2 linked regions of the Homo sapiens genome follow. The protein of the gene in region 1 interacts with the protein of each later gene in a pairwise test. Each region holds a gene or a part of one and is shown on either strand. Other genes may lie near its edges.

What was found. The genes of interacting proteins can lie anywhere in the genome.
Region 2: the proteins of STUM (region 1) and ZDHHC24 interact in binary tests that used the Homo sapiens proteins (3 or more experiments, as listed by UniProt).

The regions. Positions count from the first base shown.
Region 1 is NC_000001.11:226,546,793-226,550,536, reverse strand, and holds the start of STUM (protein stum homolog), read right to left. Parts: upstream 1,774-3,744; 5' UTR 1,633-1,773; coding exon 1,431-1,632; intron 1-1,430.
Region 2 is NC_000011.10:66,539,032-66,542,775, forward strand, and holds part of ZDHHC24 (probable palmitoyltransferase ZDHHC24), read right to left. Parts: exon of another isoform or gene 1,631-3,744; intron 794-1,630; coding exon 498-793; 3' UTR 1-497. UniProt on the Homo sapiens protein: Probable palmitoyltransferase that could catalyze the addition of palmitate onto various protein substrates.

The DNA of each region.
Region 1 (3,744 bases):
GGCAGTCTCTTTTTACTCCAGCAGGTGAGAATTTCTGATAAAACTAGATTAACACCAGCTGGCCTCCTTGCAGTGTCTAAATGTGCAAAGAGAGCTGATCTGATGACACCAGCCAGGGGGACAGGCTGCTGGAGGCACCCCAGAAGAGAGAAGCCCAACTAAAGGCCACCTAACTTACTGCTCAGATAGGCTGCTCTGGCCGCAGCAGCCCCTTAGGGTAGAAAGACAAGTAAGCTCGGAGGGGAAAGTGAACGGGTCCTGCGTGGGTGGCTGTGGCCTTGGCTGTCACCGCAGCAGAGGCCCCTGCTAAGCAGGCGAAGAGCGAGGAGACCGTGAGAAAGGCCAAAGTCAAACTGAAAACCCCTTCCAGCTGGCCTCTGCTCTTGGGAACTTGGAACCATACGTTGGCAACAGGCTCGCCGACAGGGGCACGCTTTCTCCCGGAGAGGGCACTGGGGCGCCTGGTTCTTCGGGCGGGCACGGGAGAGGGGGGCACCTCCCAGCACGCAGGAGCAGCCAGTGCCAAGCTGGAGGAGGGGAGGGGCGTGCAGGCAGAGACCTGGGGGTGGAGTTAAGGGAGGGAGGGTCAGGAAAACTTCTCATTCCCTGCCTCCATTCACCCTCCTGCACCATCTCTGTAAGGGGCCTCTGCTTTAAAACGTGGGACATAGATGCCACCAGAACCCCTGCCGGCTGCCGGAGTCCTGCACAGAATTACATCGGCGCACTCTCTACTTCTCAGGAACAGAAGGGATCCGAGGGAGCTATGGGTTCATCTCTGGCCACATGCATCCAAACTAATAAAATCATCCCCCATCCCCCTGGCGCCCTGCGGGGTGCTGGCGGAAGTGCAGGTACCCCTGAATGAGGCGGAGGAGACTCTGGCTAGAGTTCTCGTCCCCACGCGGTCCGCACTCCGCGAACCAAAGGGGGCTGCAGGTATATCTAGCCCGGCTCGTCCTCTTTCCCCGGCTCAGCTGACTTCGACGCCCGGGAGTTTGATCCTCGCCGCCGAGGCCCTAGAGCTCATTCTGATCCGACCCCATTCCTCTCGGGGAAGTGGGCTCGCGGACGGATGCACACGACGGAGAGAAGGAGCAGAAATCGGGGCGCCGGGACGGGAGCCCTACTCCGAAGCCGGCAGAGCCATTCCGGCCGCCGCTGCGGGCTCCAACATTGGCCGCAAAGTTTCCGGCTCTTTGGGGCCCCGCCTGCGGGTCGGAGACCCCAGCGCAGCCTCTCCCCTCTGGGGTGCACACTCCACGCGCTTCTGCCACCTGCCCGGGGACGCCAGGAGCGGGCGGTGGCGCGTGGTCGCAGCACTTGGAGCGCGCGGCCCCGCCAGGAGGTCTCCGGCCGCGCCCTTCTCTCCCCCCACGCCCTCCCGCGGCGGGGTGGGGGTCGCAAGGGTCGCGGCAGCCGTGTCTTACCCAGTCCCGGCACGAAAGTGTTGAGGAAGAGGCAGATGACGGCCACGGGGAAGGGCATGTAGGGGATGGCGGCGCGCAGGGGGCCCTTCTTCTCGCGGACCTGCACCACCACCCCGCTGGACGAGGACGCCCCCCGGGGGTCCGCCGCCGCCACCGCCGCCGCCGCCGCCGCCGTCTCGGCGTCTTTGTGCGAGGGCTCCATGGCCGGGCGCGCTCTCAGGCAGCCGGGCAGCACGGCCGGAGCTGGCGCCCAGCGTACGGGAGCAGGAGACTGTCGGCTGCGGGCTCCGGGCTCCGCGCCGAGCTCAGGCGGCCGCCGTGCTCCGTGCGCCGCGCGGCTCGCGGAGACTCCCGCCCTCCGGCGTCCCCACACGCCCGGCGGAGGGGCGGGGAGGGCGGCGCGACACCCGGTGACAGCGCTCTGACGCCCCTCCTCGCCAGGCCCCTTCCCCGCCCCCTCCCCCCAACCAAAACCACCGCTCACAAGGAATGGAAAATCAGGGCGGAGGGAAAGCAGTGGAAGAGGACCGCAAAGGGAGCTGTTTGCCCAGGTGCTGGAAGGGGTGGACACACCTCGCCCTCCCAGACAGGTGAACTAGGAACCTTGACCACGAAGCCCTGCGAACTGGGAGTGTGTGCTTGGCTGACACCGTCGGGAAAGCCTCGAGGCTGAGTCCCCTGATCTAGAGCAAGCCTTTGGCCAGGGACATGGGGACAAGGGACGGACCGCGCGGCGCCTGACACCTAGTCGGCCTTCAGTGCATTGTGATTTAAATGATTTTGTTTGGGGCGAGCGCAGTGGCTCCCGTCTGTATTCCCCACTTTGGGAGGCCAAGGTGGGAGAATTACTTGTGCCCAGGAGTTCGAAACCAGCCTGGGCAACGTAGCGAGACCCCCCCCCCCCCGCCCCAGCTCTATTTTGTAAAAAAAAAAAAAAAAAAAAAAAATCACTTAAAAAATATATAGGAGTGAATTTGTTTCAAGTGTCAGAGAAAAAGCAATCCAGAGATCGGATCGATAATAGAGGAAACAGATTTGCAAACACCAGGCCAGGTCTCCGCAAGACTAGTTAAAAGATGGGACACTTCCCTACACACACGCACCAAAAGCAGAAAGAAATGCGCCTGTTGCAGGCTTGTTGGGAAGCGTTCACCATCCCCTGAACTATACTGGAGGAAACCTGAGCCTTCTGTGAGCCCGACGTGGTGGTTAAAGAGCCAGTGAGGACACAGCGCCGTCTGGCGTTAATAATGGGGCAGTTGGTAGAAGCAACAGCCGGCAGCTTGAGGTCCTGTTTGAATTCGATTTTCTGAATAAGGCTGCTTCGCCTCCGCACCTGGAAAAAGTAAACGGATGAAAGTTACCGCCTCTAACGTTAGGGAGGGGTTAAAGGCTTCGGAATTATCCAGACAGTCAGCAAATCGTCTGAATAATTGGAAGGGTGCAATAGCCTCCCTTCAGGAATAATAGTGATTATTATTATAAACAACCCAGGGTCTCAGAAGAGGCTAAAAGAACATGGGTTATTGTATACTTATACTTATTGTATAAGTCTCTGAATAAAATAATTTTAAAAGCAAATGGCCAGGGGTTAGTGATGATACTGGTGGACACACACATGCGTGTGTACACATACACAGATACACACACACACGAGTCATTAGCTTAGGTTTGGCAGTCAGAAGAACAGGGTTAAAAATTTTAGTCTTTGTTCAGCCACTAAAACCTGTATGGCTTAGAAGAACTCGCTTAGCCTTTTCTGGCCTGGAGTTACTGTGTTGGTTAAAATCATAGCAAGCTTCCATTTAATACACAATTATTGAAGGCCTACTAAGACTTAGATTCCAGGGAGAGAGAAATGAGTAAAATCCAGCCTCTGCCTTCAAGAATCTAAGAAATGAGCTGAGAGATACTGACAACTACAAAGATAGACTTACAGAAACAGTGAGGAATGTTGCAGCTGTGATGTGCTGGAGGTGCTGCGACAACATGGACCTATCTGTGAAGCCAGCTAGCGTGGGGGAGGCCTCGGGGAGGTGTCCCAAAGAAGGCGATACTCAAAGGGACTTGAGCAATGACTACAGTTAACTATTTGCAGATTTGTTTTATTTTCAACAAACACTTATTTACCCAAGCACTCTCTGCCAGGCATCATTCTAAAAACCCTTTACACATTTTAACTCTTTTAATCCTTACCATAACTCTACAAAGTAAGGATTATTTATTACCCCATTTTACAGATGGGGCAATTGAAGCACAGAGAAGTTAAACAGGCTGCACAAAGTCCCCCACTAATCAGTGGTAGAGCTGGCAG
Region 2 (3,744 bases), on another chromosome or scaffold:
AAATGCCAAACCTGGGAAAGAATGTTTGGATTCTCATAGCCTGGATCAGTAGGACACTGCCTTGGCGTGCTGGTGCCCCACCCCCAACTCACCCAGGCCAGGGGAGGTAGAGCCCCAGCCCCTGAGACCCTCAGGCATCCTGCAGTTTCCAGGCCCTACAGAGGGTCCCAGAAACAGCCCCAGCAACAAAGTGAGGGGCCAGAAACTATGCAAAGATGGAGGGAGGCTGAGAAACAAGTCAGTGCTTTATTAACCTGGCAAAGGGGCAGCTAGGCGGCCTGAGCAGCCCCTGCCAGACCCTCCTCTGCACTCCTCTGCCTAAGTCACGGCCCAAGCCCTGGACACGTAGGAGTGTAGGCGGGCAGGGGCAAGGCCAAGGAAGGGGTGGAGTTGTCCAATGCAGATGTTAAGGTCCAACCCGACTTCCTTACTGAGTCTAGGTGTGGGGGCCCCCCTCTCACCCCTTCCTCCCTGCACAGCTCTGGCTCTTCCTGGAGTCAGGAGGCTGTGTGTCCCACATCTGCTGTGGTCTGGAAGGTGATCCCATCCCCAGGCAATGGGGAGGCCAGGAAGGGCCAGAGCCAGACGAGGGCCCAGCGGGGCCCCAGGGCTGCCTGCAGGTTGTGGCAGGGACCCAGGTCATAGGAGTGCTGGCCCCGAGCCCACTCCCATGTGGTCTGGCCCCGCAGCAGCAGCATCCCATGGAAGAGCAGCCCAGCCCCGCACAGCAGCGCACCCGCCACGCACGTGTCCGTCACGAAGGCCAAGGCAAACTGTGCCAGAGACACTCTGCCTGCAATAAAAGAGCAGAGAGGGTCAGGGAGGGGCAGTGGGGTCCGGCTTTCCTGCCACCTGCTCCCCTCCACCACAAAGCAGGGCTCATTCCTCCGCTCAGCAAACCCTGTGTCGATACTCGCTGGCCAGCCCGTGCTGGGTGACAAGAACGCACTGGTAAACTGGGCAGACGCAGCCCCCTACTTGGGATACGGCTTCATTCCTGCATCACAGACTTGGTGAGCACCTCCTCAGCCCTGGAGGCGGTGCCAGGCACTAGAGGGTGTCTCTGCCCTTGGGGAGCTCACAGACATTAAAGAGGCCATTCTTGGCTGGATGCGGTGGCTCACACCTGTAATCCCAGCACTTTGGGGGGGCGAAGCAGATAGATCACCTGAGGTCAGGAATTTGAGACCAGCCTTGACAACACGGTAAAACCCCGTCTCTACTAAAAAATACAAAAATTAGCCAGACGTGGTGGCAGGCGCCTGTAATCCCAGCTACTCAGGAGGCTGGGGGGCTCAGGCAGGAGAATCGCTTTAACCTGGGAGGCAGAGGTTGCAGTGAGCTGAGATCACGCCACTGCACTCCAGCATGGGCAACATAGCGAGACTCCCATCTCAAAAAAAAAAAAAAAAAAAAGGCCGGACGCGATGGCTCGTGCCTGTAATCCCAGTATTTTGGGAGGCCGAGGCGGGTGGATCACGAGGTCAGGAGTTCCAGACCAGCCTGACCAACATGGTGAAACTCCGTCTCTACTAAAAATACAAAAATTAACCGGGTGTGGTTGCGCACGCCCGTAATCCCAGCTACTCAGGAGGCTGAGGCAGGATAATCGCTTGAACCCGGGAGGTGGAGGCTGCAGTGAGCCAAGATTGCGCCATTGCACTCCAGCCTGGGTGACAGAGTGAGAAAAAAAAAAAAAGCCATTCTCAGTTACTTAATGTGTGCCGCCACAGAAAAGCCAGTATCCTGTGCCATCTTGGCCCACAGTCAGCAACAAGTACCTGCTGAACTAACGGACTACGAGAGGCCATGAAATGTTACTCTAAGTGAGAGAAGCCAGGCACCAAAGGTCACATGTTTATCATCCCACTTATGTGAAACATCCTGAATAGGCAAGTCCACAGAGACAGAAAGATTAGTGGTTGCCAGGGGCTAAGGGGATTAGGGAGGAACATGGAGGGACCACTAATGGGTACGGGGTTTCTTTTTAGGATGAAAATGTTCTGGAATTAGACAGTGGTGATGGTTGCACTACATCATGAATGTACTAAAAGCCACTAAATTGTACACTTTAAAATAGTTAAAATGGGCCGGGTGTGGTGGCTCATGCCTGTAATCCCAGCAATTTAGGAGGCTGAGGCAGGTGGATCACCTGAGGTCAGGAGTTCCAGACCAGCCTGGCCAACATGGAGAAACTCCGTCTGTACTAAAAATACAAAAAATTAGTCGGGCGTGGTGGCGCATGCCTGTAATCCCAGCTACTCGGGAGGCTGAGGCAAGAGAATCACTTGAACCTGGAAGGCGGAGGTTGTGGTGAGCCGAGATCGCGCTATTGCACTCCAGCCTGGGCAACAAGAGCAAAACTCCATCTCAAAAAAAAAAAAAAAACCATTCTGTTTGAAGGTCCTGAGGCAGGCCAGAGGCACTTGTGAGACAAGCAGGTGGACGGTCTGCAGGTCTGCAAGCACAGGGAGAAGCCCAGGCTGGACAAACAGTTCTGCGAGTAGGGGGTGCAAGGCAACCCTGAGACTGTGGGCGCAGCTAGACCTGCCAAAGTGTGTAGAGTGAGGGGGGAATGGCACCTAGACAGGAGCACGGGGAAATCGGTTCTTGGGGATCAGATAAAAGATGAGAAAGGGCAACCACAAAGGAAGGTGAACGCACCAAGGTCCCAGCCATCGGTGATGCCAGGCGGAGAACGCTTCACGGGGGCTGGGGGCCAGCAGTGTCATGAGTCTAAAAGGTCTCATAAAGCAAGAAAGGGTCCTGGAGTGTGTGGAGACAGATCCCTGAGTGAGTGGTGGTGGCAGAAGCCAGGCTGGAGCAGGCAGGGAATGAGCAGCCATGAGCCTGGGCAAGTCCCTTGGGAAGCTTAGAGCAGGGCAAGCGCTGGAGGAGGATATGAGGGCAAGGGAGGGTTTGTCCAAGGTGGCAAACCAGGAGGGCAGAGAAGGCCTGGCCTGCAGGAGAGGCAGATGCCACAGCCTGAGGCCTCCAAGCAGGGAGGTAGGCACCAAATACAAGAAGCTGGGGGCAGTCAGCTGGGCTCGGGGAGTTGAGGACAGCACAATTTGGGATGTGCCAGCTGATGTCTCACTTTCTCAGTGCTGGAGCTTGGAGTGTGGGAGAGCAGGGAAGGTTTGAGCTGCTGTTGCTGGGAGTAGCAAGCTTACAAGCAAACGGGAAGGCCAGGCATAGCCGAGGGCCTGCTGAGGTCAGCAGCCATGAACATGGCATGGCATCAACCTGCCACAGACTGCCAATGCCTCTGGCTCTCAGCAGCCAGAGGCAGACACAGAGAAGCCAGGAAAGCACTGTGGAAGGAAGATGAGGGAGGAAGTTTGCGATGCTGGCAGGAGAATGGTGAGAAGGATGAGCTCTGAGCTGGACGTCGGTGGCGAAGGTGGAAAGGTACAGACGGGCGGTGAGGGCCACGAGCCTGCAGGCTCATGGAGCAGGTGCCAGGGCGTGGAGGAGTAAAAGACGGAGAGAAGAGGAGGTGGGCAGCAGAAAGAGGAAGATGGGTGGTTTGTGAGGGTGACTCATTTTTGGATTCTGACCAGGACTGGGGTGTGGACATGGGAGGAGGGAAAGGAAGGAAAAATGAAGGAGGAGGCCAAGAGCTAAGCCATCCAGGCATTGAGGGGGCTGTTCATGCAAACTTCCAGACACCCTTGATTTCCACAGGGCCCAGGGCGAAGAGAGAGTCTGTGACTGGAGCCAGAGTCTTCCGTGACTGAGGGG